Linked DNA regions of Homo sapiens: region 1 is linked to region 2. The links come from fine-mapping of genetic effects on gene expression. A gene starts in region 2. The other region holds a variant in brackets. All regions are shown on one strand. Distances are from middle to middle. Region 1 holds the start of DPM3 (dolichyl-phosphate mannosyltransferase subunit 3, regulatory). Region 2 holds the start of GBA1 (glucosylceramidase beta 1).

Evidence for each region. PIP is the estimated chance that this variant, and not a neighbour inherited with it, causes the effect.
Region 1: its variant is the best candidate, but not a certain one, in a credible set for the expression of GBA1 in testis (GTEx, PIP 0.54).

The regions. Positions count from the first base shown.
Region 1 is chr1:155,140,035-155,144,502 of GRCh38, reverse strand. It overlaps DPM3 (dolichyl-phosphate mannosyltransferase subunit 3, regulatory), which reads left to right and starts at 3,972. Exons shown (of 2, transcript NM_153741.2): 1 at 3,972-4,012; 2 at 4,258-4,468. The coding sequence starts at 4,263. RefSeq lists enhancers at 3,673-3,732, 3,903-4,032. The variant T/C (reference allele first, on the strand shown) is at 2,205.
Region 2 is chr1:155,238,682-155,242,980 of GRCh38, reverse strand. It overlaps GBA1 (glucosylceramidase beta 1), which reads left to right and starts at 1,732. Exons shown (of 11, transcript NM_000157.4): 1 at 1,732-1,895; 2 at 2,264-2,351; 3 at 2,904-3,095; 4 at 3,219-3,365. The coding sequence starts at 1,869.

The sequences.
Region 1 (4,468 bases), 99 kb after region 2:
TTCTGGATCTGCATCTGCAATGCTCGTGTCCAGCCCCTGTAAGTATACCAATATTTGAAAGTCATTGTGACCAGTGAGTCCTTGATTGAGAAACCAGAAAGATTTGGTGTGGAAATGGAAATGTGGCTAGGGCTTTGAAGGTCGTATAGCAGGTTTAAAAACATTTTTTTTTTTTTGAGACAGAGTCTCGCTCTGTCACCCAGGCTGGAGTGCAGTGGCACAGTCTCGGCTCACTGCAACCTCCGCCTCCCGGGTTCATGCCATTCTCCTGCCTCAGCCTCCCAAGTAGCTGGGACTACAGGCACCCGCCACCACGCCCGGCTAATTTTTTTTTTTTTTTTGTATTTTTAGTGGAGACGGGGTTTCACCGTGTTAGCCAGGATGATCTCGATCTCCTGACCTCGTGATCCACCCGTCTCCACCTCCCAAAGTGCTGGGATTACAGGCGTGAGCCACCGCACCCAGCCTAAAAAATGTTTTTCGCTAGGAGCGGTGGCTCACGCCTGTAATCCCAGCACTTTGGGAGGCCGAGGGGGCGAATCACCTGAGGTCTGGAGTTTGAGACCAGCCCGGCCAACAAGGTGAAACCCCAACTCTACTAAAAATACAAAAATTAGCCAGGCATGGTGGCAGGTGCCTGTAATCCCAGCTACTCGGGAGGCTGAGGCAGGAGAATTGCTTGAACCCGGGAGGCGGAGGTTGCAGTGAGCCAAGACCGTGTCATTTCACCCCAACCTCGGCGACAAGAGCAAAACTCCGGCTCAAAAAAAAAAAAAAAAAAAGTTTGGGCTGAGCGCGGTGGCTCACGCCTGTAATCCCAGCACTTTGGGAGTCCGAGGTGGGAGGATCACAAGCTCAGGAGTTCGAGACCAGCCTGACCAACATGGTGAAACCCTGTCTTTAATAAAAATACAAAGATTTGCTGGGTGTGGTGGTGCGTGCCTGTAGTCCCAGCTACTTGGGATGTTGAGGCAGGCTAATCGCTTGAACATGGGAGGCAGAGGTTGCAGTGAGCTGAGATCATGCCACTGTACTCTAGCCTGGGCCACAGAACGAGACTCTGTCTCAAAAAAAAAAAGAAAAGTTTTTATTTGTTTTAATTTTTACTTTAACAAAGGAATTTGTATAGTTTTAAAAGCCAACTAGTTCAACAAATATTTTTCGGGGTGGCGGGGCATTTTCAAGTGAAAACCGGGAAACCTGCTCAACAAATTCTGAAAGCTGTAACTTCGGTGGGCGCCGTGGCTTACGACTGCAATAGCAGCACTTTGTGGGGGCTGAGATGAATTGCTTGAGCCCAGGATTTTGAGACCAGCCTGGGCAACATAGGGAGACCCCGTCTACACACACACACACACACACACACACACACACACACACACACACACTAGATGGGCGTGGTGGTGGTGGCCCACTTCTGTAGTCCCTGCTACTCCAGAGTCTGAGGTGGGAGGATAGCTTGAGTCCAGGAGGTCGAGGCTGCAGTAAGCCATGTTTGCACCGCTGCTCTCCACCCTGGGCAACAGAGCAAGACCTTGTCTGAAAAAAAGAAAAAGAATAGAAAAAAAAAGAGCTGTAACTCTACAAGGCTTTTAATGAAAAATAACCATCCCCTGCTCCTCTTCTTTAACCCTTACATATACAACCTACATATACAACTACGCTCCAGTTTCTAGGCTGCTTCTTCTGGTACTTATCTGTACATTTCTTCAAGCAACACTCCCACCTAGGCCTCCCAAAGTTCTGGGATCACAGCTCCACTGTCCCCAGCTCCAATTTTTAGTTAAATCAATACTTAGTGTTTACATCGTTACGGCTGTGAAAATTTTCTTCACAGCTGAGCCATTTGTGTTTGTGCTAAGACTGTGAATCTGTAAAAACTGCTTTTGTTAATTAACATCCAGGACATACGGCTGAGAAACTTCATTTTCTAAAATCATAGTCACAAACTTTGCTATTTGAAATCAGTCAGTGCGAATGGAACATCCTACTCTTGCCAGAAGTTCTGAGCCACGTGGATTACTTTGGCCTCCCAAAGTGTTGGGATTACAGGCACGAGCCACTGTGCCCAGCCTAGATAGTGGGTTTTTGGACACTATATTCTATATTTATCTTGACTTTGTAATTTCCAAGTGGTCCCTCAGCTTGGACTTCTTGATCCCTTCACTTAAAGTTATGCTTACCTCGAACCGATCAAAACACTG[T/C]TTCATTTAAATTTTAGCTAGCCTATAGTATCAGCCACTTGGGAGGCTGAGGCAGGAGGATCACTTGAGCCCAGAAGTTTGAGCTTCGCCTGGGCAACATACCGAGACTTCAACTCTAAATAAATAAGTAAATAAATTTTAAAATATAAATTTTAAAGTCAAGCCTTTCCCATATCCTGTTGTATTAGTTCATTTTCACATTACTGATAAAGACATACCCGAAACTGCAAACAAAAAGAGGTTTAATTGGACTTACAGTTCCACATTGCTGGGGAGGCCTCAGAATCATGGCGGGAGACAAAGGCACTTCTTACATGGCGGTGGCAAGAGAAAAATGAGGAAGAAGCAAAAGCAGAAACCCCTGATGAACTCATCAGATCTTGTGAGACTTATTCACTATCATGAAAATAGCACGGGAAAGTCTGGCCCCCGTGATTCAATTACCTCCCCTTAGGTCCCTCGCACGTGGGAATTCTGGGAGATACACATCAACTTGAAATTTGGGTGGGGACACAGCCAAACCATATCATCTGAATGACCATATTTCTTCCTTTTTAATGAGTTGCCCCACAGTTCTTCTAGTGTGTGATCTCTCTGTTGTGGCAAGTTAATAAACCTAACTGTCAAACTACAGATGTGGTCTTTATAAGACAGGCTTATCAATTGTCTTTCCTTTCTTATATAACTCTTTGTTTCCTCTGAAGTTGATAATTGCCTAACCTTTTCTCTTACTTTGTTCTCTCTCTCTCTTTCTCTCTATACATAATAAATTCATCCCCAAAACTGTTCTAAAGAATTATACTCTTTCTTTCAATGCCTTCACCACTTCAGGTAATTCTTCTGGTCTTTCTTTTCTTTTCTTTTTTTTTGAAACCCAGACTCCTGGAGCCCTTCTTCCTCTGGCTCCAAGTTATATTGGTTGTTGTCCTTGTAAAAATATGACTACCTCTGTTCTAACAATAATCTCAAGCCTTCATGGTTAGTTGTCAATGCAACTGCTTCACTGACTCCTGCTTTCCCCCTCCACCTGAAAGGGGTCGAGTCTCTTGACATCTCTGTATCTCCAAAGTCTATCATGGTAATCAAGAAATGTTCTGGCCGGGCGCTGTGGCTCATGCCTGTAATCCTAGCACTTTGGAAGGCTGAGGTGGGCCAGTCACTTGAGGTCAGGAGTTTGAGACCAGCCTGGCCAACATAGTGAAATCCCCGTTCTCTGCTAAAAATAAAAAAATTAGCCCGGCGTGGTGGCGCGCGCCTGTAATCCCAGCTGCTCGGGAGACAGAGGTTGCAGTGAGCTGAGATCGAGCCACTGTACTCCAGCATGGGCAACAGAGCGAGACTTTGTCTCAAAAAAAAAAAAAAAAAAAAAAAAAAAAAAAAGGAGTTCTGTCCCGCCTAGGCACTATAGAGAGACCCTGTCAAGAATGGAAAGAAAGAAATCTTCGAATGAATGAACTAGTGAATGAAGGAATGGATTTCAGCGCTGGAGAATTGAGTTTAAGGGGAATGGTATTATATTCCCATCTTGTTGCAACATTTAAGGATGTCCTCAAGCCCCACGCCAGCCTGGAGCGTAGCCCAAGGTGGGAAAGCAGCGCCGAGGCCTCTCCAGACCCGGCCTGCTCCCCGTTTGCGGAGCACAGCCCACTGTACCCCCGCCTAGATTGAGGCGCTGGCCAGGAGTACACCAGGCGCCGCCATGTGAACTACAACTCCCAGAAGGCCGCGCGGAAGCGGAACGTGAACCAGGGAGGACTTCCGGACGCCAACATCCGGGCCGCGCGGGGAAGGGGAGACGTGGGGTAGAGGTAAGTGTAGGTTGAAGGCTGAATGGGGAGGGCGAGAGATGGGGAGTGGGTCTCAAATATAGAGGGGGTAGCAAGGTGGAAGGGGCCCTTCCACCTTTTGTGGGCACTCAAGTTCGGACCTCTGGGATCGGCGATTCCCCTCTGGCCAGGGCTGGTTTTAATGCTCTCCGTGGGCGGGCTTCGGTTGAGTTTGGTCCGCTTTTCCTTTCTGCTCCTCAGGGGAGCATTGCTTCCTTCTCTCGCAGTGACCATGACGAAATTAGCGCAGTGGCTTTGGGGACTAGCGATCCTGGGCTCCACCTGGGTGGCCCTGACCACGGGAGCCTTGGGCCTGGAGCTGCCCTTGTCCTGCCAGGAAGTCCTGTGGCCACTGCCCGCCTACTTGCTGGTGTCCGCCGGCTGCTATGCCCTGGGCACTGTGGGCTATCGTGTGGCCACTTTTCATGACTGCGAGGA
Region 2 (4,299 bases):
GATTTATTGAAAGTCAAACAGCCAGTAAATGGTGTAGCCAGGATTCCAAACTTGCTGTCTCACTGAGACTGTACTTAATTACTGGAGGGACCGGGTGTGGTGGCTCATTGCTATAATCCCAACACCTTGGGAGGCTGAGGCTGGTGGATCACCTGAGGTCAGGGGTTCGAGACCAGCCTGGCCAACATGGTGAAACCCCATCTCTACTAAAAATACAAAAATTAGCTGGGCATGGTGGTGGGCTCCTGTAATCCCAGCTACTCAGGAGGCTGAGGCAGGGCAATTGCTTGAGCCGAGATCACACTGCACTCCAGCCTGGGCAACAGGGCAAGACTCTGTCTCAAAACCAAAAAAAAAAAAATTACTGGAGGAACCTAGAAGAAGAAATGATCAATTTTGCTTGGAGTGTATCTAGAAAGACTTCACTGAGATCATTTAAAGAACAAAAAGGATGGCTGGGGTCCAGCGCAGTGGCTCATGCCTGTAATCCCAGCACTTTCGGATACCAAGGCAGCAGATCACCTGAGGTCCAGAGTTTCAGACCAGCCTGGCCAACATAGTGAAACCCCATCTCTACTAAAAATAAAAAAATTAGCTGAGCATGTTGGAGGGCACCTGTAATCCCAGCTACTTGGGAGGCTGAGGCAGGAGAATCACTCGAACCCAGGAGGTGGAGGTTGCAGTGAGCCAAGATCACGCCACTGCACTCCAGCCTGGGCAACAGAGTGAGACTCTGTCTCAAAAAACAACAACAACAAAAAATACAAACAAGAGACAAGTAGTTCCCAGGTGCCTACCAAGTGGTCAGGCACTGCACTTACCTCACTGACTGCAGTAACCACCCTTTGAGGTTGTGGCATTGCCTCCATTTTCCAGGCAAGGAAATGGGCTGAGAGCTGGGATTAGTCAGGTCATGACTGTGTGTGCCACTCCCGCTAAATCTCATTTGATGTGGTTCATGAGGCCACACCATGGACAGCTTCCTCCTTGTGTCCACTGAGGATATGGCTTTGTACAACACTTTGGTTTTTGAACGACTTTACAAACCTCCCTGTCTTGTGAGGAAGGAAGAACAGTTATTACCATCTGCATCTGATGATGAAACAAGGGACGCTGCAGAGGAGCCGCACTGACCACTCCCTCCCTCCAGTCCTGTCATCCCACTGCCAGTGTCCCACCCTCTTGTGCCCTGCACTTCACTGGCTAATAACCCCCCTCACTTTTTCCTCTGTGAAGCCATCCTGGATAATTCCCCACCCACGAATGGTCCCTCCTCATCTCAGAGAGCTCTCCATGCACACCTGTTACCGTTTCTGTCTTTATCTGTAAATATCTGTGTGTCTGACTTCCATGCCTCACACACCTCTATAGGGCAAAGACTGTCTTAAACATCTTGGTAGTGTCAGTATTTTGCACAGTGAAGTTTTTTTTTTTAAATTATATCAGCTTTATTTGTACCTTTTTGACATTTCTATCAAAAAAGAAGTGTGCCTGCTGTGGTTCCCATCCTCTGGGATTTAGGAGCCTCTACCCCATTCTCCATGCAAATCTGTGTTCTAGGCTCTTCCTAAAGTTGTCACCCATACATGCCCTCCAGAGTTTTATAGGGCATATAATCTGTAACAGATGAGAGGAAGCCAATTGCCCTTTAGAAATATGGCTGTGATTGCCTCACTTCCTGTGTCATGTGACGCTCCTAGTCATCACATGACCCATCCACATCGGGAAGCCGGAATTACTTGCAGGGCTAACCTAGTGCCTATAGCTAAGGCAGGTACCTGCATCCTTGTTTTTGTTTAGTGGATCCTCTATCCTTCAGAGACTCTGGAACCCCTGTGGTCTTCTCTTCATCTAATGACCCTGAGGGGATGGAGTTTTCAAGTCCTTCCAGAGAGGTAAGAGAGAGAGCTCCCAATCAGCATTGTCACAGTGCTTCTGGAATCCTGGCACTGGAATTTAATGAATGACAGACTCTCTTTGAATCCAGGGCCATCATGGCTCTTTGAGCAAGGCACAGATGGAGGGAGGGGTCGAAGTTGAAATGGGTGGGAAGAGTGGTGGGGAGCATCCTGATTTGGGGTGGGCAGAGAGTTGTCATCAGAAGGGTTGCAGGGAGAGCTGCACCCAGGTTTCTGTGGGCCTTGTCCTAATGAATGTGGGAGACCGGGCCATGGGCACCCAAAGGCAGCTAAGCCCTGCCCAGGAGAGTAGTTGAGGGGTGGAGAGGGGCTTGCTTTTCAGTCATTCCTCATTCTGTCCTCAGGAATGTCCCAAGCCTTTGAGTAGGGTAAGCATCATGGCTGGCAGCCTCACAGGATTGCTTCTACTTCAGGCAGTGTCGTGGGCATCAGGTGAGTGAGTCAAGGCAGTGGGGAGGTAGCACAGAGCCTCCCTTCTGCCTCATAGTCCTTTGGTAGCCTTCCAGTAAGCTGGTGGTAGACTTTTAGTAGGTGCTCAATAAATCCTTTTGAGTGACTGAGACCAACTTTGGGGTGAGGATTTTGTTTTTTTTCTTTTGAAACAGAGTCTTACTCTGTTGCCTGGGCTGGAGTGCAGTGGTGCAATTTTGGCTCATTCCAACCTCTGCCTCCCAGATTCAAGCGATTCTCTTGCTTCAGCTTCCCAGGTAGCTGGGATTACAGGCGGCCACCACTACGCCCAGCTAATTTTTGTATTTTTAGTAGAGACGGGGTTTCACCATGCTGGCAAGGCAGGTCTCAAACTCCTCACCTCAGGTGATCCGCCCACCTCGGCCTCCTAAAGTGCTAGGATTACAGGTGTGAGCCCCTGCGCCCGGCCAAGGGGTGAGGAATTTTGAAACCGTGTTCAGTCTCTCCTAGCAGATGTGTCCATTCTCCATGTCTTCATCAGACCTCACTCTGCTTGTACTCCCTCCCTCCCAGGTGCCCGCCCCTGCATCCCTAAAAGCTTCGGCTACAGCTCGGTGGTGTGTGTCTGCAATGCCACATACTGTGACTCCTTTGACCCCCCGACCTTTCCTGCCCTTGGTACCTTCAGCCGCTATGAGAGTACACGCAGTGGGCGACGGATGGAGCTGAGTATGGGGCCCATCCAGGCTAATCACACGGGCACAGGTAACCATTACACCCCTCACCCCCTGGGCCAGGCTGGGTCCTCCTAGAGGTAAATGGTGTCAGTGATCACCATGGAGTTTCCCGCTGGGTACTGATACCCTTATTCCCTGTGGATGTCCTCAGGCCTGCTACTGACCCTGCAGCCAGAACAGAAGTTCCAGAAAGTGAAGGGATTTGGAGGGGCCATGACAGATGCTGCTGCTCTCAACATCCTTGCCCTGTCACCCCCTGCCCAAAATTTGCTACTTAAATCGTACTTCTCTGAAGAAGGTGAGGAGGAAGGGGACAAGATGACATAGAGCCATTGAAACTTTTCGTTTTTCTTTTCTTTTTTTAAAATTTTTTTGAGGCAGAATCTCACTCTGCCCATTCTGTCGGCGAGACAGGAGTGCAGTGGTGTGATCTCCCCTCACAGCAACCTCTGCCTCCCAGGCTATAGTGATTCTCCTGCCTCAGCCTCCTGAGTAGCTGGAATTATAGGCGTGCGCCACTACCACCTGGCTAATTTTTGTATTTTTAGTAGAGACAGGGTTTCATCATGTTGACCAGGCTAGTCTTAAACTCCTGACCTCAAATGATATACCTGCCTTGGCCTCCCGAAGTGCTGGAATTACAAGTGTGAGCCACCGAGCCCAGCAGACACTTTTCTTTTTTCTTTTTTTTTTTTTGAGACAGAGTCTCGCACTGTCACCCAGGCTGGAGTGCAGTGGCACAATCTCAGCTCACTGCAACCTCCACCTCCCGGGTTCAGGTGATTCTCCTGTCTCAGCCTCTCGAGTACCTGGGATTACAGGTGCCTGCCACCACGCCCGGCTAATTTTTTGTATTTTTAGTAGAGACAGGGTTTCACTATGTTGGCCAGGATGATTGCGAACTCCTGACCTCGTGATCTGCCCACATCGGCCTCCCAAAGTGCTGGGATTACATGCGTGAGCCACTGACACTTTTCTTTGCCCTTTCTTTGGACCCTGACTTCTGCCCATCCCTGACATTTGGTTCCTGTTTTAATGCCCTGTGAAATAAGATTTCACCGCCTATCATCTGCTAACTGCTACGGACTCAGGCTCAGAAAGGCCTGCGCTTCACCCAGGTGCCAGCCTCCACAGGTTCCAACCCAGGAGCCCAAGTTCCCTTTGGCCCTGACTCAGACACTATTAGGACTGGCAAGTGATAAGCAGAGTCCCATACTCTCCTATTGACTCGG